7 linked regions of the Homo sapiens genome follow. The protein of the gene in region 7 purifies or fractionates together with the protein of the main gene of each other region. This does not show direct contact. Each region holds a gene or a part of one and is shown on either strand. Other genes may lie near its edges.

Region 1 (3,500 bases), on a different chromosome or scaffold from region 7:
TACATTTACTCTAATTTGTAAGGAACCAGGAATTTGTAAGGAACCAGGAATTTGTAAGGAATTTGATTACTGAATCAAAAACAAAGTAAACAAACTGGTAGGGAGAAACCCATTACGCTGCTAAGAATAACAATATAATTTCAATGTATTATTTCATAATCATTACTCACTTGCTTGAAACACAGACCAAGATTCCACGCCTGGAACTAGATAGTATATATCTGTTTATAGACTTTACTCCTTACCTTTAGCCTTGGAAGCTTAAGAAACTCCTCCTCTTCAGAAATTTGTAACAAATGCTCCTGAATATAAGCATCAACCTTATTCAACAAACGGGAGTCTCCCATACAACTTGCAAAATTTCGGTAAGAGATGCAGCTGGTAACATCCATTCTAGACAGTAAATAATCACCACAAACCTTGGAAAAGAAATATATGAGTGCCAACACTTACATATCTTTTATTCAACAAATATTTAATGTTCAGTGTGGTAAAGACTATGTGAAGATACAAAGAATCAAAAATCACTGTCTTAATACAACAAATGTTAATAGTGGTAATAACACGTATACAAATGATAAACATCTAATTATGCCATACAGATATGTAAGTTTTAGTTTAAGGAGAGGTACAACAAATTGAAATGCTATGTAAGTTCACATAAGTATTTTCAAGTAGAATAATTTGGTAAGGCTTCATGAAACGCAGTATCTGAACTGGGCTCTACAGGAGAGATGATGTTGATGTTGAATGCAGACAGAAGTAGAGAAGATGCTGCAAACAATTTAATTTGGTTGGAGAAAAGATAACTAGGAAATAGTTTTGGAAAGACAGCAACTATATAAGGGAAAATCTAGAAACTAAATGCAGGGATATGTACTGTAAATTAAGGAAGGATTTTTGAACAAAGGAGTGGTATTAGAAGAAGGGCTAGCAAATCAAACTTTTTCTTAAAGGGCCAGATAGTAAAAGCATTTTAGGCTTGTAGGCCATTCTGTTTGTCACAACTGCTCAATTCCGTCACTGTAGCTGGAAAGCAGTGTAGACCATATGTAAATGAACACACATGGCTGTGTTTGAATAAAACTTTATAAAAATAGGCAGCTGGCCAGTAGGCCTTAAGTTTACTGACCCCCATGCATTAGGGGATTAAATGCCTGTTTTCCAAAAGTACTTTTTACTGGCATTAAATTCTAGAAGGAATACTTTTAGAGAGCACAGGAAGTTTAGGAGAACACAGAATTGAGGATATAAGTTATGTGATTAACTCTTAAGAAAAATATTAATTTTAATTCATGCTATCAAAGGCTGACATAGCCACCCTACCAGAGAAGATTGCTGAAAGGGTCAGACTTCAGCCCAAATTATCTGAGAAGAAGTGTGATCTTGCTACATTATTATAGCCAAACAGTTAAAATAACATATTGACTACTCTGAGGGAAAAAAGGGACATGTTCAAGTCCTTGAAACTAACAAGATGTTTTATGACAAATTCAGCATTGCAATCACACAAAATAAGACTCCATAAATGATTTTATTTACTTCTGATACTCTACCTGCTTTACTCGATCCATCTTCAGCTTTTTTGCTGCAGAATAAACATCTTTTACCAATTCCTTATCTGCTTTCAACCTATTTAAAAAAAAAGTTACTTATGATACCAAAGCCTTAAAACACACTTAATTTAAATATATGTAGCAAGACTTGGAATTTTCTGAAGATATTCCCTAATTATATGGTTTACTTCAAATGTACTTACTGAGCAGTGTAGGCATAATTCAACAAGACTTCAACAGCTTCTGGATTGAGATCATCAAATTTAACGTGAGAAATTCCATGAGGATCACTATCACTATTAAAGATTTCAAATAAATAGGGACTGCAGCAAGCTAGCACTGCTCTGTGTGCTAACATTTCATGGCCACAGACCTGAAATTATGAAGAATTATAATTATAAGTATTGTGGATTATGTGCTTCTCTAGCTAATTACTATATCAGATTCCTTTATCTTACATTTCTCAGTATTCTTTTAAAAAATCATTTCATTAAATGCCTATGAAAAAGAAATAAGCAAATCTAAGAACTTATGGCTTTTAGTAATAAAAAATTCTATAAATTTTGAATTAAGTTTTAAATACCTGAAGTCGAACATCACAGAACTGGCCACTTTTCCTCAGGGCATTTAATTTGGCAACAGAAGACTCAATAAAATTTTCATCCTCAAACATCAAATATCCATTGGGAATCATTTTTCCTTATAAATTTGGCTAGATGATGAAAAGAAAGCTGAGTTATTTTACTTGCAACTGATGGTTTTAAAAATATAATGCTAAAGAGTAATACAGTCTCTTTATTCTCAAATTCCATCCTATAAACAACACATAAAAATTTCATCACACAAAAACTTAGCTGAAACAACACCTGTGTTGAATGTCCAAGTCTTTGTTCCCTAATACTTTGGTCATAAGACTTTTAAAGGATTCAAACAGTAGCAGCTATCTCGACAATTTTGGCCAGGTTCCCATGCCCATTAAGCAAATTCATTCTGAAGGGAAGGGAAGGGAAGGAAACGAAACTCCATCCTGCCCAAACCCATATAATAAGTAATCTAAAAGCCTGAAAGGGTGAAATAGCCAGTACATATAGGTTTCCTTGGATTTGGGCTCCTGTCATTCCTTTACCCACAAATGAGAAAAACTGTTACTTATCCTAATCCTAGCCTTTTTCAGTTGTCTTAAAGGGCCCCCAATTTGCTTCTAGTCTTCAAAATTATATATAATCAAGATTTATATGCAGAAAATTGCCTAATGTCTTCCTCCCTTGCCTAGTACACAAACTTAAAAAGTCTGATTAGTCTTGTCACTGTATCTACGAAATTATTTTTATAAATGTTTTGAAACATATACAGTGATTTAAAAAGATGAACTTATATTCTGTTCCTTTCTTTCATATATTCTAAATCACTTATCTCATCAGATTATATAAATATAAATGGGAACTTACAACTTTTTTGCATTTTACCATTACTTATAAACAACTGACTAATGACTACACAAAATGCATAATTAAAAAACAGTGATAGGCTGGGCGCTATGGCTCACACCTGTAATCCCAGCACTTTGGGAGGCCGAGACAGGTGGATCATTTGAGGTCAGGAGTTCAAGACCAGCCTGGCCAACATGGTGAAACCCTATCTCTACTAAAAATACAAAATTTAGCCAGGCATGGTGGCGGGCGCCTGTAATCCCAGCTACTTGTGGGGGCTGAGGCAGGAGAATTGCTTGGGAGGCAAAGGTTGCAGTCAGCTGAGATTGTGCCACTGTACTCCAGCCTGGGCAACAGAGAGACTCCATCTTAAAAAAATAAAATAAAATAAAGAACAGTAATAGGGAGGCCAAGGCAAGAAGATTGCTTGAGCCCAGGAGTTTGAGACCAGTCTGGGAAACATAGTGAAATCCTGTCTCTACAAAAAATGTAAAAATTAGGCAGTCATGGTGGT
Region 2 (4,042 bases), on a different chromosome or scaffold from region 7:
CTCTACAAAAAATAAAAATTAGCAGGGCGGGGTGATCCACGCCTGTACTTCCAGCTACTCAGGAGGCTAAAGAAGTCAAGGCAGCAGTGAGCTGTGATCACACCACTGCACTCCAGCTTGGGTGACAGAGCAAGATCCTGTCTCAAAAAAATAATATAAATTAAAAATTAAATAAAATATTGTGTATAAAAAATAATTAAAATAACCCAAATGCTTTCATAGCTTTTAGGCCCCTCTCCAGTTTCTATCATGCAAAAACGCCGTTTTAGAAAATCCTGATAACTGAAATGTACCAGAAACAGGAATCAAAACCAGCTCTTGCCCAACTTTTAATTTATGAACTAAGATACACACAGCCAAGGCCCAATCAATGTACAAAGTAAGCCTTTCCTCCCAAGGGAAAGGTGGTTCAGTGGTAGGCTATGGAAAATAAGACTCCTACTTATTTCCAGGTGGGCCTCTTAGAAATATGCATAATAAAGTAGGTGATATAAGGTATTTCCCCATATTTAATATCTCTTTACTTAAAATGTTTATGATCACTGGCATGTTATGGTTTGTCAGGACTTTCTTCCTCAGGGGTACATACAATAATCATAGATTTGATGAAATATATTAATTCTCCAGATGTTCCTCTTGAAAATGCTTCCAATTCAGTCCACAACTAATTGTTAACATAGTTTTTAAAATGTTTAATTATGCTATAAAACATAAAGAACCTTGAAATAAAATTAATTCACCCTAGGCTCAAATATAGCAAACTGATAAGATTATCTTTGTCATTCCAACTAGAGCAAAACAAAGAAAAAATACCAGTTAGGAAAAAGAAAAATCCTCTTATATACTCTGGAAACAAATCTTATACTTTTCTGTCACTTAGTTTTGTGAAAATACTCCTCTCAAATGCACTATATATTTTTCAAAGCCCATAAATTAAATTTCAGTCCTTCTAACACCAGTTATTTCATCTATCAGCATAAAGATGAATCTTTCCAATGAGTTGTAAGACTCAAAACTAGGCAGAAAAATGCTTTGCAAGTCGACTAGTAATCGGGAAAGAGCTGGACAATGGGGTTTACATTTGCTCCTTAGGTCAGAAACTAAAGGTTTGTGTGTCTTAACAGCTCCCTGGACCTAAGCACCACTGGTGCCTTGGTTTAAAAGAGTTAAAATCAGCTACCTTATAATCTTTTACTCATTGTTCGACAAATACTTTTTGAATGATTACCGGGTGCTAAGCAACCATTCAAGAGGACCTCCTAAGATGTGACCCTTGAGCAGCACCTTTTAAAAAGAATGTTAAAATTCTGCCTGAACAAGGCACTACTATCTGACGTAGAGCACCAAATCCACCTCGAAGTATACAATCCCACCCCCCGAATGAAATTTAATTAAGTTTTTTCCTAAAGCTAGGCCCTCAACAGCGTACAGAGGAGGTGTATCTTAATGAAGTAAATCGCAATTCAAAACTGCACGGTTTCCCGCTGGCAAAACTGACTTAGTGAAGGTCAGAAAGAACTCCAGGCCAATGAAAATTTTAATACAGAGGTGAAAGCGAAGGTGCCCAATTCAAAAGCGGGACGAAAGTAAGAGGAACGGTCTAAGAAAAGTGAGTTGGAGGAGAGATGAGCAGCAGCGGTCAAACGTGCTCTCCCCGCCGGGTACGTCAAGGCGGCAACTTTTCCAGCACTCCGGAACTCCGGACTGCCCAGGCCTCGGGCGAGCTGGCACGGCTCGCGTCCCGGGGAGGGACCCCAAAGGCGGGGAAGCGGGTTACCCCGCAAACCAGCAAGCTCGACAGGGAGCAAGCTGGACGGGGGCGGGACCTGGACACACACCCTTTCCTCTCTGAGAAGGAAGCGGGGAGGGAGAACGGAGTGCGCGACCCTGGGGCCACCAGCCCTCACGCGGGCCTGCAGGGGCGTTGGGGGAGGGGGAAGACAGTGCAGCTCCGAGGGGTTCGTCCAGAACCGGCCTAACCGCCGCGGAGCCCAAGGCTGGCGGGGGGAATGGAGCGGGCCTCGCCGAGGGCAGGCGGGAAACGGGGTGGCGGGAAGACCAGAGGCCGGCCCAGCTCCAACGCCGCACAGGAGGCCCCGACCCTGCCCTGCCTTCGGCGGGCCCCGGGATCGCCACAACGGGCCCCCAGCCTCCCAGAGGGACGGGGTGGGAGCCGAGGAAGCCCCCACCCCGACACGCAGACACACAAGCCCGCTCGCCGCCCTACCCCCACCCTCGCGCCGCGCTCGCGGGCTCTGCGCCCCACAGCGGCGCGGGGGAGGCGGGGGCCAGCGACGCGGCCGCGGGGAGCTGATGCCCTCCCCGACGCCCGGACCTCGACACGCAGACAAGATCAACAAAGCATCGCCGCTCCCGAGATAAAACATGCCACAGGCCCCGACCAGGGACTCTACGACGCGTGGCTGCCCGGGGCGCAGGGCTGCGCGGACGGGCTGGGGGAAGGGGGTGGGGAAGGGCCTCGCGGGGTGGCTCCCCGGTCCGGGAGCCTCGCCTCCGCCGGGATGCGGTGCTGCAGGGACCCCCACGCTGACCTTGGAGTCTCCGTTGCACAGAGCCATCGGGGCCAGGGCCGGAGCCGCGGCGGTGACGGCGACAGTACGAGACGGGGCGGGAGGGTGCCGGAAGGGTCGGCGCCGCGGGCTGAGGTTGAGAAGGAGGCCTGGTCGAGGAGCAGCCGGCAGCGGAGAGGAGCCAGCCGCCAGAAAAGCGCCGAATGGAGCAACAGCAGCGGAGCGCGGGCCCCAGCGCCGCGGGAGAGAAGACCAGCAGCGCGCACGCTGCCCCCGCCTCCTGCTTCCGCCCCGGCCGGCCACTGGGAGGAGCCAGAGCCCGTTCGGCTTGGCAGCCGAGCCTCAGATACCCTCCGCAGCCGCCGCCAAACCGGCCGGCCCTCGAGAGGAGGGGCTCGCGGCGCCCGGCCCCGCCCCCAGCCCGGTCCCCGCCGGCAAAGCCGGCCGGGTCTCCCGCGGCCCGCCCTTGGGAGGAGGAGCCCGCGGCATCCACCGGCTCCGCCCCTCCTGCCCTCGCACCGAGGAGCCCGCCCCGGAGGAGGGGCCTGTGGCGCCGGCCAGGAGAAAAACCGAAGCCGAATCCGAGCTAGTTTGCTGCTGCCGGATTTGCCTGCTACCTTGGATGACTTCGGGAGGCTGGCGGCACCGAAGAGGCCTCCTGAGAGCTGGGCCCCTGGCGGAACTCTTAGCCGGTGGCGTGGCCTTATCTCAGGTTGCTGGACATGAAGGAGGCCAAGGCTGCTTTGGAAAGTTCCGTGGCCATATCTCAAGGATGTCATTGTAGGAACTGATCACTTAGATACTTCAAAAGTTATACAGCTCCCCACAAATACAGCAGGTGCAGTATTTCCAAAGAAAAGGGAGTTTGGGAGTGGTAATCTGGTGAGCAGCTGGCCCAGGGAACTGGTCGTGAAGCTCTGTTTGCACAACAGTGTTTTTATTGGAATTGTTTGTGGGGAAGGGGCTGCAGTCCCTCCACCTACCCCTTGGCAACCATCATGATGATGAGGTGTTACTTTGAATTTGGTTACCTAGAGGCCTAAATCGAGATTGGGGTATAAAGAATAATACTTGAGATGGCTTCCAGCTAACAAAGCCTTTCCACAAATATTTTTATTATAATACAGCCAACATTTTGCTGCAGTCATTCTTGTGTCAGACTGTAGCTAGGGTATTAAGGAGCCAGAGTGAGAAAATACTTTAAAAGCTAACTTTAACCAATCCCGTGAAAGTAGTAAGGTAGGATTGATGTTCTTATCCTTTTTACAAATGAGGAAATTGAGGCTTAGTGAGATAATGTGCCTCTCAGTATATATAGAATGTAAGGCCTGCCCAATCTGGGAAAGTGTAGACAGTTTATTAGTGAAATATTTACAAAAACGAAAGGCTTAAGGTCCTAGTGGGCCTGAGACTTAAGTATTTCGCTTACCTTTTTTTGAACGGAAAATTGAATATTTGAACTCTCCAAAGCCATGGATACTGGCTTCTCTGGGTAGGTCTGTATGCACAAT
Region 3 (3,500 bases), about 140 Mb from region 7:
GTATTTCTCCTCACAAATGGTGAATATCAACTCCAGGATGGCTGGAGTTTTCTCATGGTTTGGTTCCACGCCATCTGCATGTCTTTACAAGTGATAAAAACCAGAATTTTCCAGCTGCTACTAGTCACAGGGGGTCCCCAATATGGGTTGTTTAATTATGATGACGGGTCCTGTCAATTGCATCCAGTAAAATTGGTCACATAGAGAACTCATCTAAAACTGAGGTTTTGTTGTGGTTTTGAAAGGTCCATTGGAATCCAGATTTGCAAAGCATGTCAAGTTATGGCAAAACATATGCCACCCATCTCAAAATCTTTCCTTATTATTGCATAACTTTGAAAGCCACTGTTGCGTTTGTTGCGATGAGGTTAGAGTTTTGTTGACATGATGATATTACTCTCTTCCTCTGGGTGAGACACATCTGGATTCTCACTTGGAGCAGGGCTCTGTACATCCTTCTGGGATTTGGTTGAGTAGGTAATATACATGCTTCTCATTAGGAAAATTCCAGCAATTACTGCAAAATAGCTCCCATAAACTAAAAACTGGAGAAAAACAAATAATTAGCCACATATAAAATATGACCATCTATGTCAATGATAATACATCCTAATACTGTTGGTTTGCTTGGATTATGGGGTAACTGAGACCCAGGTTTTTAATATGGGTCATTTAGGTTGAACAATACTCTCCTATCAAGTAAGAAATCAAGATCAAGTAAGAAGGTGTAAGCAATACGGTGACTAAGAGTCTTGGCTTTAGAGCAGGTTGCTTGGGTTAAAATCATAGTTACTATCATCAATAGTAAAAAACAAAACAAAACAAACCCAAAAAAACACTAAAACTCATTGACCTGTCTCTATGTCTTTGTTTGGAGGCTGGTGCAATGCTACATTCAATGTCTCCAAGAATAAATTTAAGCATTGAGGTTACTTCTTACCTGCCTTATCCATGTAAATGTTGTCCTAGTTGCAATTATTGCTCAAAACCTACTTGGTGTGTTATAATATGATAATGAAGGAATTATGTATTTTTTAATTGCTTAACCAAGGAACTCAAGAAATTTAAATATTGCTTGTTGTAAGGTTGAGAAATTTTTGAGGTTACCTAGTTGAAAACAGAAGTATTGCAGCTTACCTGAATGCTGACTGGCAAGTTGAGCCCTCTCTGATCTACTACAATCACAGTCATGATGGTCTGAATCACCAAGGCAATAAAGGTGTTGATTCCAAATACCAAGGCATAGCGTTCCACATTCAGATTAACTGCAATCTGAAATCTATCATTAAACATAAATAAGCATTTTAACTATAATATACATGGATGGAAGTCTTAAAAAGATAGAACATATTGGCCACAGGGGTATTTGTGTCACCCACCTCCAGCTCCAGGTAGTCCAGCAAAGAGAGAGAGAGACTGTCTGGAAGAAAGTAAAGGAAAAGAACAAGTGTCTCTGTCTGGTAATCCAGAGAATTCTTCTGGATCTTATCCAAGACCACCAAAGCAGTAGCTCTAAGAGTCTGCTAGAACCACAGTGTTACTGGGCTTGGGGTGCTCCCTAATGTAGATACAGTTTAGATCACAACACCCAAATCCTTCTGAATACCTGGAAAGCCTTCCCACGGAGGACAGGTACAAAAAAGCCCAGACAGCAAAGACTACAATAAATACAACTCTTCAATACCCTGACACTGATGAACATCCATAAGCATCAAGATCATCCAGGAAAACGTTCTCACCAAACAAACTAAATAAGGCACCAGGGACCAATCCTGGAGAAACATATACGACCTTTTAGACACAGAATTCAAAATAGCTGTGTTAAGAAAACGCAAAGAAATTCAAGATAACACAAAGAAGGAATTCAGAATTCTGTCAGATAAATTTAATAAAGAGATTGAAATAATTAAAAAGAATCAAGCAGAAATGCTGTGGTTGAAAAATGCAATTGACATACTGAGAATGCATCAGAATCTCATACCAGCAGAACTGATCAAGCAGAAGAAATAATTAGCAAGCTTGAAGACAAGCTATTTAAAAATACAGTCAGGAGACAACAGAAAAAAGAAGAATGAGGCACACCTACAATACCTAGAAAACAGCCTCAAAAAGGAAAATCTAAGTTATTGGCCTTAAAGAGGAGGTAAAGAAATAGATAGAGGTAGAAAGTTTATTCAAAGGGATAATATCAGAGAGCTTCCCAAACCTAAAGAGATCAATATCCAAGGACAAGGTTACAGAACACCAAGCAGATTTAACCCAAAGAAGACTACTTAGAGGTATTTAATAATCAAACTCCCAAAGGTTAAGGATAAAGAAAGGATTCTAAAAGGAGCAAGAGAAAGGAAATAAATAACATACAAGAGAGCTCCAATGTCTGGCAGCAGTCTTTTCAGTAGAAATTTTAGAACCAGGGAGTGGCATGACATATTTAAAGTGCTGAAGGAGAAAAACTTTTACCCTAGAATAGTATATCCAGTGAAAATATCAAACCCGAAGGAGAAATAAAGACCATCCCAGACAAATAGAAGCTGAGGGATTTCATCAACACCAGACCTGTCCTACAAGAAATGCTGAAGGGAGTACTTCCATCTCTAAGAAAAGGACGTTCATGCGCAATAAGAAAACATGTAAAGGCACAAAACTCACTTGTAATAATAGGTACATAGAACAACACAGAATATTATCACACTGTAACTGGGGTATGTAAACTACTCTCATAAGTAGAAAGACTAAAAGATGAACCAATCAAAAATAGTAACTACAAATTTTCAAGACAAATAGTACAATAAGATATAAAGAGAAACAACAAAAAGTTAAAAAGCAGGAGGACAAAGCTACACTGTAGAGTTTTTATTAGTTTTCTTTTTGCTTGTTTGTTTATGCAAATAGTCTTAAGTTGTTATCAGCTTAAAATAATGGGTTATAAGATAGTATTGCAAGCCTCATGGTAATCTCAAATTGAAAAACATGCAATGGATACCCAAAAAGTAAAAAAGAAATTAAATTATATCACCAGAGAAAATCACCTTCACTAAAAGGAAGAAAGAAAAGGAAAAACACTGCAAAACCAGAAAAGAAATAACAAAATAACAGGAGTAAGTCCTTACTTATCAATCTAAACTCTTCAAAAGAGAGTGGTTGAATGGATTTTTAAAAAGACCCAATGACCTGTTGCCTACAAGAAAGACATTTTACCTATAGAGACATACATAGACTGAAAATGAAGGGATGGACAAAGATATGCCATGCCAATGGAAACAAACAAAAAAAGAGGACTTGTAGCTATACATATAGCAGAGAAAATACATTTCAAGACAGAAACTGTAAGAGACACAGGTCATTAAACAATGATAAAAGGGTCAATTCAGCAAGAGAATATAAAAATTGTAAATACGGCCAGGCGCGGTGGCTCATGCCTGTAATCCCAGCACTTTGGGAGGCCGAGGTGGGCAGATCATGAGGTCAGGAGATCAAGGCCATCCTGGCTAACACGATGA
Region 4 (3,500 bases), about 120 Mb from region 7:
ATCGTAATTTACTTCATTTCATCTTCACGACAGCCTTACAAAGTAGATGCTATTATTATCCCCTTTGAAGAGCACAAGATAAATAAAATCCTTAAGTAACTCAGTTAATAATTTGTGGAAGTGGATTCAAATTAAGTCTACCAGCCAGGCACAGTGGCTCACGCCTGTAACCCCAATACTTTGGGAGGCTGAGGCGGGCAGATCACTTGAGGTCAGGAGTTCAAGACCAGCCTGGCCAACATAGTGAAACCCTGTCTCTACTAAAAATACAAAAATTAGCTGGGAGTGGTGGCATGCACCTGTAATCCCAGCTTCTAGGCAGGCTGAGGCAGGAGAATCGTTTGAATCTGGGAGGTGGAGGGTGCAGTGAGCCAAGATCGTGCCACTGTATTCCAGCCTGGGCGACAAAGCGAGACTTACCTCAAAAACGAAAACAAAAACAAAAACAAATCAAGTCTACCAGACCCACGGTACTTATCCTTTACCCTACTCCAGTTAATCTTTTTGTTCTATCACTAGTTCACTTAAATCTTTAACAAAACCGGGGCCGGGCATGGTGGCTCACACCTGTAATCCCAGCACTTTGGGAGAACAAGGTGGCAGATCACAAGGGCAGGTGTTCAAGACCAGCCTGGCCAACATGGTGAAACTCCGTCTCTACTAAAAATATAAAAATTAGCTGGGTGTGGTGGCGTGCGTCTATAATCCCAGATACTCAGGAGGCTGAGGCAGGAAGATCGCTTGTACCCAGGAGGTGGAGACTGTAGTGAGCTGAGATCACGCCACTGCACTCCAGCCTGGGCAACAGAGCAAGACTCCATCTCAAAAAAAAAAAAAAAAAAAAACAAAAACAAACAAAAAAAATCCCCTATATGCAAGTACCATACTAGGTGCTTCAGAATACTGTTTTGTAAAGGAAATACGCTACAGTTCCTATGACAGAGATTGACAGCTAATGAATGACTCACCAGAATTCACAACCCTACTGCTATCGTATAGTTGTCAGTGGGATGTCAACTCAGTCAAACCTTTTCATTCCCAGTTCCCTTTATATTCAAGTGGCCCATGTGACTTTACATCCCAGTTCCCAGTTCCCTTTACATCCAAGTGGCTCATGTGACTCTCACCACCAGACTGTGAGTGCAAGTAGTGTGTCACTGCAGAGCTCAGAAGGTTAAGGAGAATTCCTTTCCTATTGCCACTTTACCCTTCTGCCAACAAAGCCCTTACAGAATGGAAGAGCCACAGAATGGAATAACACTCACACTGAACTCTTTTATGAATGAGAAACTAGAATGCTAAGCTACTGAAATCTGGGCTTTGTTAAAGCAGCAGGTATTATCCTATATGAGGATTACAAGAAAAGCTATACAATAACAGGCAGGTAACGTGATTATAGATAAAACATACATAAAATAAGAGCAAGTATTAGAGAACGTTAAGAAAGAAGTTCATGAGATTTACAAAATAGGATTTATAAAGATGGGAAAAGAAACAAAGGCTGAAAATGAAGCAAAAGCAGAAATAAGCAAGTTACAGTCAAAGACGTGGAGAGTGGTATTGACCAACTTTGGCTAGTGTAAAAAAAAGATGGGAGGTTGGTAGTATCACATTAAAGGTGTCAAATGCCAAGCTCAGTGTCTGGACTTTTGTCCTGCTGTAAATATGAAGTAAGATCTTAAAGTGAGAAATATTAATAAATAAGATAGGATGGGAAATAAATTACAAGAGGGTAGGTGACTGCAATTGCCACTTGGTAAGTGGCAAGGAACACTAAGAATGACAAGACAGGCAAAACTGATTGGATCTGTTAAATGATTAGGTGTGTGGGAGGGGAGTTAAAATACAAACTATGTTTAAGGTCTCACAGTTAGATGACAGGTAGAATGAGTGCTAATAAAAACCAAACTTATATGTGGGCCACACACAGTTCTAAAGACTTTCTGTATATTAAATCATTAAAACCTCACAACAACCCTATGAGGTAGGTACTTTTATTAACTGTATTTTACAGATGAGGAACAGAGGCCCAAGGTCACACAACCAGTAAGTGCTGGAGGCAGGAATTAAACATAGGCACTATGGCTACAAAGTCCAGACTCTTAACTACTATGCTCATCTGTCCCTATAATGACAACAAACGAAACAAACAAGGGGAAAAAGTCTAGCGGAGAAGAGATTCAAGAGAGAGAGGTAAGGATTCAGGACACATCTGAGAGGGACACATAAGGTGGATGGGAACAGACACTTTCACTCAATAACACCTTGGTCTTTGGAGGTTTAATTTCTATCATTAAAAAAGTGATTCTAACATTTGCCTGAGCAATGATTGTCAGGGCTGTGGATAAGATGCATGTGTTTACTTAGAACTTGAAATAAGGGTCACAGAAGCAGGCAGTAAGGCCTATTGAATGTTTTACAATTCTGGAATTAAAGATCTGAATTTCACATACTGTTCTTTTAATTTGCTGTGTAGTCTGGGAAATAGTTTCGTTGTCTTAACAGTAGGTTTCATTTATTATGAAAATAAAAGTATAATAACCACCTCCCGAGTAAATAAAAGAACCAAAAAAAATACACTTTTACTTTTTTGGGAAAACCTAAACAAAACGTATAAAAATACTAACCCCAAAGTTACGTGACTTAATTTGTGCTTTTGAAAATCAATTCAATGCACTAGGTTCACGAAGTATATTGGAAGAACAAGAATGCATCAGTAGTCTCAAAAAAAAACCCAAAGGCTACGCTAAGCCATAACAAAAAGGGGCTACAATCCTAAGCACGAAGTCAGGGTGTCCCAAATTTGCCAAACAGTAACCATGAGAGCAGTTCTAATGTATTTACAGTCTCTACCTCAGCCTACTGACTCCAAAGAGGACCGGGAATCTGAATTTTGAACAAATGCCAGAGGGAGTTAACAGACCAGCTTGGAAAACACTTAATTATTTCACTTAACAGAGAGAAACTTCACTAAAAAGTCTGCTTCATCATTATCTTATTCTGCCTCTTTTTCCTTTAAGTTATTTCCTGGAGTTAGTTAAGTGTGAAAGAAATAAAATAAAATAAAAAGGTATCCCTTTCTTCCAGGGACTTACTGGAATTACACTATAATTTTTTGTAATACAAGGATACAATTTTCTCTCTCATGTTCCATCATCACTCCTAAGCTTTACTTACGTAATTCTAACACAATCTACTGCAGACAGATCAAGCCATTTACCCTATCTCCCAACAAGGCAAAGATGGTAAGAGGAGGATTAGAGTTGCTATAAAAGGTACAGGACTGTAACTAGAACACAATCTTCCTGTGAATCAGGAATCACAAACTCAATGCTGCTGAGAGTTAGGTAACATCAAAGAGCAAAACAGAGCAGATAGGGAAAGGGGCCAAATGAAGTACACCCCACATGACTAAAGGTGAGGCTGCCCCTGTCAGCTCCAGCGCATGTCACCTGGTAAGACTGAGGGCCCAGTGCTAGCAAGTCTTTGAACTGTTTTTT
Region 5 (3,728 bases), on a different chromosome or scaffold from region 7:
TCGGACTCCTTCCTGGCCAAATGCCTGGAGCTGGGCCCTTTGCTGCCAGCACCCCTTAAAGAAGTGGGCATGGTTGGGGAATGGAGGGCATTTCCTCTGGAAAGAAAAGGCAGAGGAACCAGTAATGGCCCAGGAGTGCTGATATCCTTACTGGGGTGCACATTTTTGTGAAATGAGACCCCTTGCCAAATAGAACTCTAAAGTTCCTTCAATTCACATGCCTAGAGAAGAAAATAATCAAACTCTTCTGTCAGGGATCACCTGGCTCCCCACATCCCCTCACTTAGGATGTTTTATTCCCACTGGAGCATGTGATTGGAAAACAAAGGTAAATAGGAGCAATTGATTCCCGGATCCTTTTTTTTCCCCAGCAGGATTAAAGCTGCCTCAGCCATAAAGAGTTTACAAACTCTAAAGAAAGATAATAACTTCCCTTCTCACGGCCCGGTCATGGGGAGGCAATGCATGTTTCCAATCAGCTGAGAATGTAACTCAAATGGTAGGTTTTATTTCACTTTAATCCGCCTGTGAGTTCACGTTAAAGGTAAGAGGAATCACAGCCCTGCAATTCAAATAGGGTTCATTAAATTCGGCATCTCCTCTTAACTGGGCTGGGTTGTTTACTCCTCCCACAGTCTTGGATGGGTTTTGAGGGTCTGGTGCGGTGTCCGGTGAACGGCTGCAATGCAGGTTAGGCTGCCACCATGAGGGAAGCTGGAGGGAGGACCTGTTAACCTCATGGTACTGTGGCGACATCAGCCACCACTACGTGTCACGGGGTGGATGCTGAGGAAGAGAAAACAGAGCAGAGCTGGAGAAGTTCGTACAGTAGATACAGTGGAAGACAGGTGGCTCAGCTGGCAGCCCACTGCAGGGGTGGTGGAGGTCGCAATGCGCTGTCCCCACCACATGGAGCTTGCTTGCCTCCGCACCTCTTTGCTGGCTGCAGCCTTGCTGCTCAGTGGGCGGTTGTGGAAAGAATCGGTTCTCAGTTCCCATTCCAGCTCTGCTATTTAGACACCGGGAGACCTGGAAACAGCCCCTTGACAAAGTCTTGCTCTACACGTTTCTGTAGTGACCGTCCATTTGAAGGGATAGGGAAATATTCCCTCAGTGTCCTGCTGTGAAACTGTTAAAGCCACCCATCCTATGAAACTCACTCCTTTGGGTTAAGCATCACGTTCTCAGTCCTTTCCTGTGTGGATGGAGTGTTGGCACAGTGAGGCGGGTGTTGCAAGTGGACGCGTCGGGGGTGGTCTGCACGGGCTGGCCTGCATAGCCCAGGGGTGGAGAGAGGGGTCAGACTAGAACCTATGGAGACTTGGTGGGCAACAGGCCTGGGCTCAGTCCAGCCAGCCCAACCTCTGATTGCTATCCTCAGAGCCCCTCCAGGGTCTCCTTGGCAGGGGCTGTCCCCTATGAGCCTCTGCAGGGGACAGGAAGTGCTGACTGAGAACTGTCTCTCTGTGACATGCACCCTGTCAAATCCATAAACCTTCCTCAGCAGTCACCACACAGAATCCCAAAACCCCAGGGTTCTGCTTGAGTTAGAGCTACAAAGTCTCAAGGACTAGAAGGAAGCACCAGCCTTGTTCTGCCCCAGCTAGAGGGTCTGCGCTGCCCCAGCCAGAGGGTCTGTGCTGTCCCTGCTGAGGCCTACAGGAGGCAGAGACATTCACCTCCACTTCCTGTCTGCCCATGGCTTCGCGGCCTTCTCACCCCAGCTGGCCAACTGGCTTCCCACCACTATGGGCCTCGCACTGCCCATGCCGGGCCTGAGGGGCCTGGCTCAGACTTTAGTATCCAAGGGGACTGCTGCCTTGACCACCAGAGCCCCCCCGTCTGTGCATCTGTCCTCTGTTCAGCTCTGGAAAGGCCACCGGGAACACAAGAGCCAACAACCCATGGCCTTTGTCTGCAAGGAACTTGAGGTCTCACCGGGCAGACAGGCACGGAGTGAGTGCTCCACCATGGGCCTCCCTTCCTCCAGGTTGCATCCAGGACTATGCTGTCTAGCGTGTCTGCTGTGACTTCCTCATGGCAGAGCCCCACACTGTGGCTGTTTATGGAGCATTTGCAAGTCTCCCTCGAGGGGAGCCCGTGTCTCTCACGGACAGCTTGGCAAGATTCACATTCTTGGAAAAGCAGAGGAATGCGAGGGTTAAAATACCTTAAAGGGCAAGGAGATGATTTCTAGATTTCCAGACAATGTCTCAGAGAATTGTAGTGCTCTGGGGTATGCCTGAATGTAACTAATGTAGCTCCTTTTGTGCCTGAGTGTAGACTGGGTCCATGTGCCTACATGCATTCAGTTCCTCCCACCAAACTGGACAGTGATAGCTAACCCTGTTGACCCTTATGTCTGGGTGCCTTAAATTTGTGATGCCTCAAACTGACCTTCACAATGACTCTAAGGAGGTAAGTACTGTGAACTTTCCCGTTTTCTACAAGAAGAAACTGTGGCACGGAGAGATTCAGTTACTTGTCCAGGATCACAGAACTATAGTAAGTGGGGGTGGGGACAAGAATTCTAACCCAGGCAGCAGTCTGACCAGAGGGCCCTAGCTGGGAGCAGCGTTCATGTGCACTGTATGTTCGTGTTTAGTGTATGTCTGTGCATACTTGCGTGTGTGCACACGCACACATGTTCACTCAGGCACGTGGGCTGCCCTGCGGTGGGAGCTGAGAGAATGCAGTGGAGGTTGTTGGGAGGAACTCACCCGCCTGCTCTGGCTGTCTGAGCAGGTGAGGGATAGTGATATCAAGTGCGAAGACCAGGCCCTGAAGCCAGCCTGACGGTTCCAGCTGTTAGGAGAAAGTGAAGGTGGGTGCCATGGATCTGATGATTTCAGTGATTTTCTACTCAAGAAAAATGAAGTCTCGGATGGGCAGAGCTTAACTGCCTTAAAAACTTGGTACAGGGCAAGGTGTGAGTTTCCCGGTGAGACTGTGTGAACTGTGAACGGGTAGAGTCTGAAACTACAAACCAGATGTTTCCGGGCTCCCTCCCGCCTGGTCTGGCCTGTCTTCCTTCTGCTGCTATGCAGTTCATCCTGGGTCCCTGAGGGCCTCGCAGATGCTTCACTCGAAAGATTGGAGTTGCAGAGTCCCCTGTGGAGGAATTGAACTGCCCCCTCTCGCAGGACCCCAGCTGGCAAGGTTTTGTTCCTCCCTGGAGGGTAGAGACCCTCACTGAGGCCCTGGAGAGGGGCACTCAGGGGCAGCAGCTCATTCCCAAAGTTCTCTGGTGGAGCTGGGGAGTGGCACCCTGGGAACTCTGGGGTTTCCCCACCAGCTCCTCTCTCCAGTCTTTGGTGTCCAGGTACAGTCTCCAGGCCGTGGCTTCTCGAGTTCTGTATGTGGGTTGCTGCTCCGTAATGCATAGTTGGGGGACCATTTTGGTCAGTGACAGATCACTGCTGCTTTTCATCAGACCAAAATACATGTGGCTTCTTCTCCTTGCCAGCCCTACCAGGGCATCTCCCATTATACTAACCCTGCCTATTGGACCTTCTGATGCAAGGAGCAGATTAAAATCCCCTCCCTGTTGCCTACCAGGTCCGTGGCTACAACTAAATCCCTAGTTGGGGAATCACAGAGCACAGGTAAGCCCTTGGGTTCTGGAGCCAGCTTACTGGGGTGTGAGTCTTCCTTAGCTCCGTGTGGATGGTGAGCCCTCCTCTCTCAGGTCTCATGATAGTAGCTAACCCTTATTAAGTGTGTGCTGG
Region 6 (3,500 bases), on a different chromosome or scaffold from region 7:
TGGGAGGTGGATGGGTGAACAGGTTAACACCCCTTGTGATGCCTGTGGTTAGAGGATGTGGAAATCCAGGAGCAGTGCCTAACCCAGCTGGAGATTAGGTGGCCAGGGAAGGCCCTTGAGGAGGTGACGTGACAGCTGCGACCCAACGCGTACAGCAGACAGAAATGACCGCTGCTACCGCGGCTCCTCAGGAGGTTGAAAGCCTTCCTCCACCACACAGAATGTTCTGGCAGCTGAGGCTTCCTCCTGCAGCCACAGCCTGTGGCAGCCCCACCTACTACCCTCCGTCTGTTCCCAGGGGCCTGAGCAGGCTCCAGCCTGGGCTTCAGAACGGAAGTGGGAAGGGCTGACCCTGCGGGGAGCGGTTTCTGGGGACCTGGGTCCATGTGGAGGTGGAAAGTGCGGCACCCTGGGCATTCTGGGGTGGTGACCCTGTCTCCGTGCTTGAAGTTCTCTGCGTGGGTCAGAGGCCCCCTCCTTCTTAGGGAACAGAACAGTGACACTGTGACGCATGAGTCCCACGGGCTGAGGGCTCACTGCAGCTAGGCTTCCCAGGTTCCCTCTGCATCGGGCATGAGCGAGGCACTTCACACCGGCTTTCTCAGCCTCGGTGCTATTGCCATTCAAGGCCGGGTCATTCTTCGTTGACGGGGGCTGTCCCCTGCATTGCAGGATATTTACATGCCAGCAACACCCCCAACACCCAGATGTGGCAACCAAAAATGTCTCCAGATATTGCTCAGCGGGCCCTGAGGGGCAGAATGGCCCTGGGTTGAGAACCGTTGCATTTTAAATTCCCTCATTTAGTACAATCCTCCCCACTCGCCTGTGAAGGAAGATTATATGTCTCCAGTTGTTTGTTTTGGAGACAGAGGTTTTTTTTTTTTTTTTTTTTTAAAGACAGGATCCCACTCTGTTGCCCAGGCTACAGTGCAGTGGTGTAATCACATCTCACTGCAGCCTCAACCTGTAAGACTCAAGCGATTCTCCCACCTCAGCCTTGTAAGTTGCTGGGACTATGGGTGCATGCCACCATACTTGGCTAATTTTTAATTTTTTTTTTTTTTTGTAGAGACAGGGTCTCCCTAAGTTGCCCAGGCTGGTCTTGAACTCCTGGCTTGAAGTGATGCTCCCACCTTGGCCGCCCAAAGTGCTGGGATTACAGGCTTAATTGAACCATGGTGCTCGGCCTGAGACAGGGTCTCAATCTCTTGCCCAGGCAGGAGTGCAGTGGCATGATCACAGCTCACTGCAGCCTTGACCTCCTGGGCTCAAGAGATCCTCCTACCTCAGTTTCCTGAGTAGCTAAGGCTACAGGCATTCACCACTATGCCTGGCTAATTTTCAAATATTTTGTAGAGTCAGGGTCTTATTATGTTACCTAGGCTCCTGGCCTCAAGTGATCTTCCTGCCTCAGTCTCCCAAGTAGCTGAGATTGCAGGTGTGAGCCACCATACCTGGCCTGTCCGCATTTTACAGATGAAGAAATGGAGCTCACAGAGGGAGAGTAACTAGCCCCAGGTGACACAAAGAGTAACTGGTGGCTGGATGCTGAGTCCCGTGATGGCCACCGGGGCTGAAGATTCCCAGCTTGGGTGAGATGGTGTTACTCACTTTCTGAAGCTCTTCGGCAAATGTATGGCCCTTTTCTGTGACTAATTCCAGAGCAAACCTATGAAGAAAAAGGAAAAAGAATTTGCCTGTAATGTAATGTCCCTAGGCCCTGTCTTGCCATAAACAATAGATTCTCAGGTGGCAGGCCATTTAGTTAATTTAGCTATAATAGCCATGTTATTTTTCTTGCTAACAATAAGAACATTATAGCCTTCCATTTGGGGGCGGTGGTATTTGTTTCTTGAAATGCCTTTTCGGATGCTCATTATTTCCAGTCAAGAATTCCTTTTGAACAGCTACTCTGGCCAGGCCCAGGAGAGTCAGTGGTGAACAGAAGCTGACCCAGGCTCTCTCCAGCAAGTTGGTGACAGGGTGAGCAGTGACAGTCTCAAGTGCTGGATCCTGAGCTCTGACCCGCAGCCCTGTGGTGATAGGTGAGTGGGAACCAGACAGACCCAGGTGCAAATTCTGCACCGCTGCTGAGTGTCTCTGGGACTTCAGGCAAAGCTTACACCTTCATGTTCAGGAGCGTGATATTCAGGAGTGTGATAGGTAATCAGATTAGACATACTCCTGAATGTGAAGGTGCAAACTGAGATCAGTGCTCTGAAGGAAAGAGCAATAGAAGCCTAATCTGACCTTGGCTAGAGAGGCAGGGAGGGCTTCCTGGAGGAGGTGATGCTGGAGGGGAGACTTTGAAGGCTGGGGAGGACTTCCCTCATAAGGCAGAGAAAGCAAACTGCCCCCCGACACAGGTCAGGACCCTGGCTCTGCCTCCCTCAGAACCCTGCACTTCCCTCCTGCACCAGTCAGTGCCCCAGCAGGAGACAGTGGCGCGCTGCAGGGATTCCTGGAGGAGGGCTTTGGGAAGGGACAATTCACAGAGGTATGGGCAGAGTTTCAGGGAAATGCAGGAGCCTGAAGGGCAAGGGTCGGGGAAGGTACAACTCACCCTGGAGGGAGCTGAATTCTGGAGTCACTCAGCAGGGAGGGAGTTAGGTAGGGAGCCCAGCTGCCACCAGAGCCATGCACCACTGGGGAACAGGGTCACACACACTCATGAGCTCTCTGCACTCACTCTCCTATCACCTACTGGTGCCTCCCACTGGCTGGACCCACCTGAATGCCAGAAGACCAACGAATCGAGGTGGCACAGCCACCAGGTGATAAGGTCAGCCTCCCATGCATAAAGAGAAGGTGAAGAGAAGGGATTTGAAAGGGCCAATGGAGAATATCCAGCCCATCTTCCTGGCACATCTTACAGTTAGAACTAAACACACCAGTATGTGATTCCCGTCTGGTGTGTCTTCCCCTCTGGACCAAAGGGAGGGCTGTGCAGGCTGGGACACAGTCTGTCTCCATCATAGCGGATGCCCCATGCCTGCCTCACAGGAGGTGTGCAGAAGTACCTGCTTGCCGAGGGATGCCCCGTGACCAGGCCAGTGGCAGGCCCCACCCTGGGCACTTGCCCCAAGCCTGCTCCCACCCTCGTAGCTGCCCAGTGAGTGCTGCCTGCTCCCTGCACTCTGCAGCTCAGGAAGGTGGGGCTGAGGTTCTGCTCCCTGCACTCTGCAGCTCAGGAAGGCGGGGCTGAGGTTCTCTGTTGAGCAGCGCCTCGCACTGCAGATGCTTGGTCAATATCTGACCAAGGAAGAATCCACAACTGAGGTTTCTCCAACCTCCCGCTCCTCCTCAACTGAGAGACGATGGCTCGTGTTTTAGAGCTCATTAGAATAGCTGATGCGAGAACTGGCCTTTTCTCCCTTTGCCCACTTGGTCTTGTGTCTGCCCTCTTCTGGACCCCCTCCCACACACACCAAGGGGTTTGTTTGCCTTCTCTACCCGGCTGGCTGACTATCTGTACCTCCCATTATCTGTCCCGAAAA
Region 7 (3,500 bases):
TCTCCCTGACAGCTTACATTCCAAGTCATTCCATACCATACCGCTCCACTCCACAGTTTTATAAACCTGATCTTAAGATGTAACTAGGTACTATGTGTGCTCACAATAAAAACTAACTAAAAACAAATCAGAGGGTAGCAGACAAGTAAACAAAGTTTCCAGTAAGGCATCAGGAGATCACTGCTGGTGGGCCCCTCACTTTACCAGCTTAAAGAAGTTTTGATTTTTATTTCTCAGCAAACTCAATATTCAGAAGCTTTACCAGCAGACTCAAGTCAAAGGTTTTAAATACAGTTTACCTCATTTTTTTTTTTTGGTAAATATTTCATATAAAACATGAACTCAAGTTCTACTTCATTTAAAAAACTGAATATTTTAATAGTAAAAATATATGTTTATATTTCTCTTTTTAAAAAGACATTTAATAACAATACTTCATAAGACTGGATTTAACTCCCCCTCCCACTCTTCCCCCCACCCCCCACCACAAGTTGTCCAGGCAGAGATACATTAAGGCAAAGGCTCCTGGAGAGGTACGTCCACCTTGGCTGTGGGCTGGAGACTCAAGGTGAACACACTCTGCTCCTTGCAGGGTCAACAGAAAGGCTTCTCCCTCATGTTCACTGAGCCATCCTGCATCCCAAAGTAGACTCTCTCAGCCATGTTGATGAATAGGCCTGTGTCCACCACACCTGCAGGACAAAGGACAGAAAGAAACATTGTTTCAGCCTCCCAAAGCAAAAAGAGACTCAAAGACTGCAGGGTCACTAGAAGCAACTGTCATACACAGCATTGGACGAATGACAAATCTAAAGCCTTTTTCTCCCACAGAGCAATGAAAAGAGATTCTGATTATCTTAATTTCTTCTTGCCACCTCTTTCTCCCCTCCCACTTTGGCCTTCTTTCTGTACCCAAACATGCTAAGCTTTGTCCTGCCCTGAGGCCTTTGTTCATGCTGTTCCCTCTGCCTGAGCCAGTCATTGTCAAGCACTTCAAGGGGCTGGCTCAGCTCTGTCCTTCAGACATATCAGATGGCAAGTCATCCTCTAGAGACCCTCCATGACTACTCCAGCCAAGGAGCCCCACTACCAGTTATTTTCAATCATACCACCAGCCTTGAAAGATTTCCTCGGAATGGGAGGAGATATTTGCAAAGCATATACCTGACAAAGGACTCATATCAAAAATATAAACAATTTATAAATCATCAAGAAAAAGACAGAATCCCCATAGAAAAATGGGCAAAAGACTTGAAGAAGTACCTCACAAAAGAAGCTACCCAAAATGGCCAATAAACATTTTAAAAGATGCTCAAAATCATTCACTGAAAGGAAATACAAATTAATATTACAAGATATCACTACACACACACTGAAGTCAGTGTAATGAAATTCTGCTGGGATGCAAAGACACTCATACGCATTGATGGTGAAAGCTGAGCTGGCAAAAGCACTTTGGAAATGTTCATCTTCCAAGCTGATGGATTCACACCTAACCACTCAGCAATTCTACTCCTAGATATACAACTGTTAGGCATACATTTGGTCATCAAAAGACATGTGTAAGATGTTGATAGTGGCACTTTTCCTATTAGCTAAAAACTGATAATACCCAAATGTCCATCAAGAGTAGAATAGAGGCTGGGTATGGTGGCTCATGCCTATAATCCCAGCACTTTGGGAATGAAGCCCAGGAGTTCAATGGAGCTCCAGATGGAGCTGATGGAGCCCAGGAGTTCGAGACCAGCCTGGGAAACATAACATAGAGATGGCAGCTCTACAAAAAATACAAAAATTAGCCAAGCATGCTGGCACATGCCTGCAGTCCCAGCTACTCAGGAGGCTGAGGTGGGAGAATCGCCTGAGCCCAGGAGCAGAGGTTGCAGTGAGCCATGATTATGCCACTGTACTACAGCCTGGGTGACAGAGCAAGATCCTGTCTCCAAAAAAAGAAAGAAAGAGAAAAAACTAAAAGAGTAGAATAGATATAAACTTTTTTTCACACACATACAGATGATGGAATATGATTCAGCAGTGAAAATTAACAACTACACACAACCTTTACCAAGAATATTTACATATACTCACACATACTTCAATGACATAACACTTTAACTGTAAGAGAAAAGGTATAATGGACCAGGTATGCAGGGAAACAGATACCTGCACACACTGTTGGTAGAAGGCTAAGTGAATACAAGCTACAGACGGCAATCTGAAACCATCTAACAAAAATCACAGACACATTAATCCTTTCATCCAGTGATTCCCTGCTAGCAAAAATCTGCAAACATAAATGACCACTAGTGGTGATCCAGTTAAGTCATAATGTTACATAGGTAAAGTGGAATACATGCAGGTATTCAGAAAAAAAAGGAACAAGGAAGCTCTTTTATAAGCCAATGTGTAATAATCTCCAAGACAGGCAAGGCAGGAAACAGAACATGTATAAAGCAGGCTACCGCTAGTGTAAAAAGGGGTGGGGCGGGAGGAGTTGCAATTTGTGTGTTTATGAAAGTCTATCTCAAAGGCCACACAATTTTGGTAACACTGGCTGCCTCCAGATAGGGTAACTAGTTGGTTGGAAAAGTGGCAAAGAGGACTTGCCACTGTTTAACTCATAATTTTAAACTACACAAATTCAAAAGGATAAATACAATGAAAACTTGCAGGAAAATGGCAATAGAAGACAGGATTAATGTGCAGCACCCACTTGGACAGACAGAACAGTGTGTGGAGACACACATTGTGAACTTTTGCTCCAAGAACCACCACAGGAACATACCAGGAAAACCAAAAGAATTCACAGACCCTTTGAAAGAAGTGGCTTGCTGCTGCAAACTCCATAAGACAGCCAAAAAACTGTGAGTTCCCAAAGTGTGAGAGGGGGAAAAGTCTGCCTCTGAACATACATCCCCACCGGGGAACCTGAAAAATCCAGATCACAGGAGACGGATTTAATCTTACCTAGAGCTGAAATGGATTTAGAGAGCTGAGCAAACTATAAAAGTAGAAGCAGCAGCAGGAAGAGCCCTGTAGACACTTCCAGTCCCCAGCTTGAGCCCAGGGAAGCCATCCCTGGCTTTATCTCACAGGGGTCCTTCGGGAAAAAAAGGCAGCCAGCAGAACTGGGGAGGGGCCACAGGATGAAGGAAGCTTCTAGCTGAACTTCGTAATAATTTCAACTGAGCACAAATTTTCCTGAGCAGAATCCGGTGGGGGACAAATGGGAAGTGCAGATACAAATGAAGAACCCACAGCCGAAGGTGCAGGCAGGCAGGGAGGGGCGAGGCCTGAGAGGCCTGCTTGCTTTCTCAGTAGGGAGGCCTGTAGTCTGGGGCAAGATCTCAGCCCTGCTCACCATGGTGGGGCATGGCGGGAGTGAAACTGGCCTTGCTGGCTGTGTGGCAGCTGGGTGGGGGTCTGTCACTGCCGGCTTTCTCCTACTTCCCTGGCAGCCTGTATGACGCAGAAGAGGCAGCCATAATCCCCCTGGGAAC

Evidence for each region.
Region 1: the proteins of RPIA (region 7) and IVNS1ABP purify together in Homo sapiens (affinity purification with mass spectrometry; one large-scale study listed by BioGRID and IntAct). This does not show direct contact.
Region 2: the proteins of RPIA (region 7) and GMPS fractionate together in Homo sapiens (co-fractionation; one large-scale study listed by BioGRID). This does not show direct contact.
Region 3: the proteins of RPIA (region 7) and SLC19A3 fractionate together in Homo sapiens (co-fractionation; one large-scale study listed by BioGRID). This does not show direct contact.
Region 4: the proteins of RPIA (region 7) and RPE fractionate together in Homo sapiens (co-fractionation; one large-scale study listed by BioGRID). This does not show direct contact.
Region 5: the proteins of RPIA (region 7) and TIFAB purify together in Homo sapiens (tandem affinity purification; one large-scale study listed by IntAct). This does not show direct contact.
Region 6: the proteins of RPIA (region 7) and MMAB purify together in Homo sapiens (affinity purification with mass spectrometry; one large-scale study listed by BioGRID and IntAct). This does not show direct contact.

Annotation. Positions count from the first base shown.
Region 1 is NC_000001.11:185,307,244-185,310,743, forward strand, and holds part of IVNS1ABP (influenza virus NS1A-binding protein), read right to left. Parts: intron 2,269-3,500; 5' UTR 2,251-2,268; coding exon 2,140-2,250; intron 1,930-2,139; coding exon 1,760-1,929; intron 1,633-1,759; coding exon 1,557-1,632; intron 420-1,556; coding exon 246-419; intron 1-245. UniProt on the Homo sapiens protein: Involved in many cell functions, including pre-mRNA splicing, the aryl hydrocarbon receptor (AHR) pathway, F-actin organization and protein ubiquitination.
Region 2 is NC_000003.12:155,869,408-155,873,449, reverse strand, and holds the start of GMPS (GMP synthase [glutamine-hydrolyzing]), read right to left. Parts: upstream 2,801-4,042; 5' UTR 2,580-2,800; coding exon 2,553-2,579; intron 1-2,552. UniProt on the Homo sapiens protein: Catalyzes the conversion of xanthine monophosphate (XMP) to GMP in the presence of glutamine and ATP through an adenyl-XMP intermediate.
Region 3 is NC_000002.12:227,687,029-227,690,528, forward strand, and holds part of SLC19A3 (thiamine transporter 2), read right to left. Parts: intron 1,280-3,500; coding exon 1,138-1,279; intron 546-1,137; coding exon 369-545; 3' UTR 1-368. UniProt on the Homo sapiens protein: Mediates high affinity thiamine uptake, probably via a proton anti-port mechanism. Has no folate transport activity. Mediates H(+)-dependent pyridoxine transport.
Region 4 is NC_000002.12:210,005,638-210,009,137, reverse strand, and holds part of RPE (ribulose-phosphate 3-epimerase), read right to left. Parts: intron 1-3,500. UniProt on the Homo sapiens protein: Catalyzes the reversible epimerization of D-ribulose 5-phosphate to D-xylulose 5-phosphate.
Region 5 is NC_000005.10:135,443,726-135,447,453, forward strand, and holds the end of TIFAB (TRAF-interacting protein with FHA domain-containing protein B), read right to left. Parts: 3' UTR 3,384-3,728; coding exon of another isoform or gene 2,649-3,383; 3' UTR 501-2,648; downstream 1-500. Other genes in the region: DCANP1 (dendritic cell nuclear protein 1), read right to left, coding at 2,649-3,383. UniProt on the Homo sapiens protein: Inhibits TIFA-mediated TRAF6 activation possibly by inducing a conformational change in TIFA.
Region 6 is NC_000012.12:109,563,505-109,567,004, forward strand, and holds part of MMAB (corrinoid adenosyltransferase MMAB precursor), read right to left. Parts: intron 1,673-3,500; coding exon 1,615-1,672; intron 1-1,614. UniProt on the Homo sapiens protein: Converts cob(I)alamin to adenosylcobalamin (adenosylcob(III)alamin), a coenzyme for methylmalonyl-CoA mutase, therefore participates in the final step of the vitamin B12 conversion.
Region 7 is NC_000002.12:88,747,173-88,750,672, reverse strand, and holds part of RPIA (ribose-5-phosphate isomerase), read right to left. Parts: intron 693-3,500; coding exon 595-692; 3' UTR 1-594. UniProt on the Homo sapiens protein: Catalyzes the reversible conversion of ribose-5-phosphate to ribulose 5-phosphate and participates in the first step of the non-oxidative branch of the pentose phosphate pathway.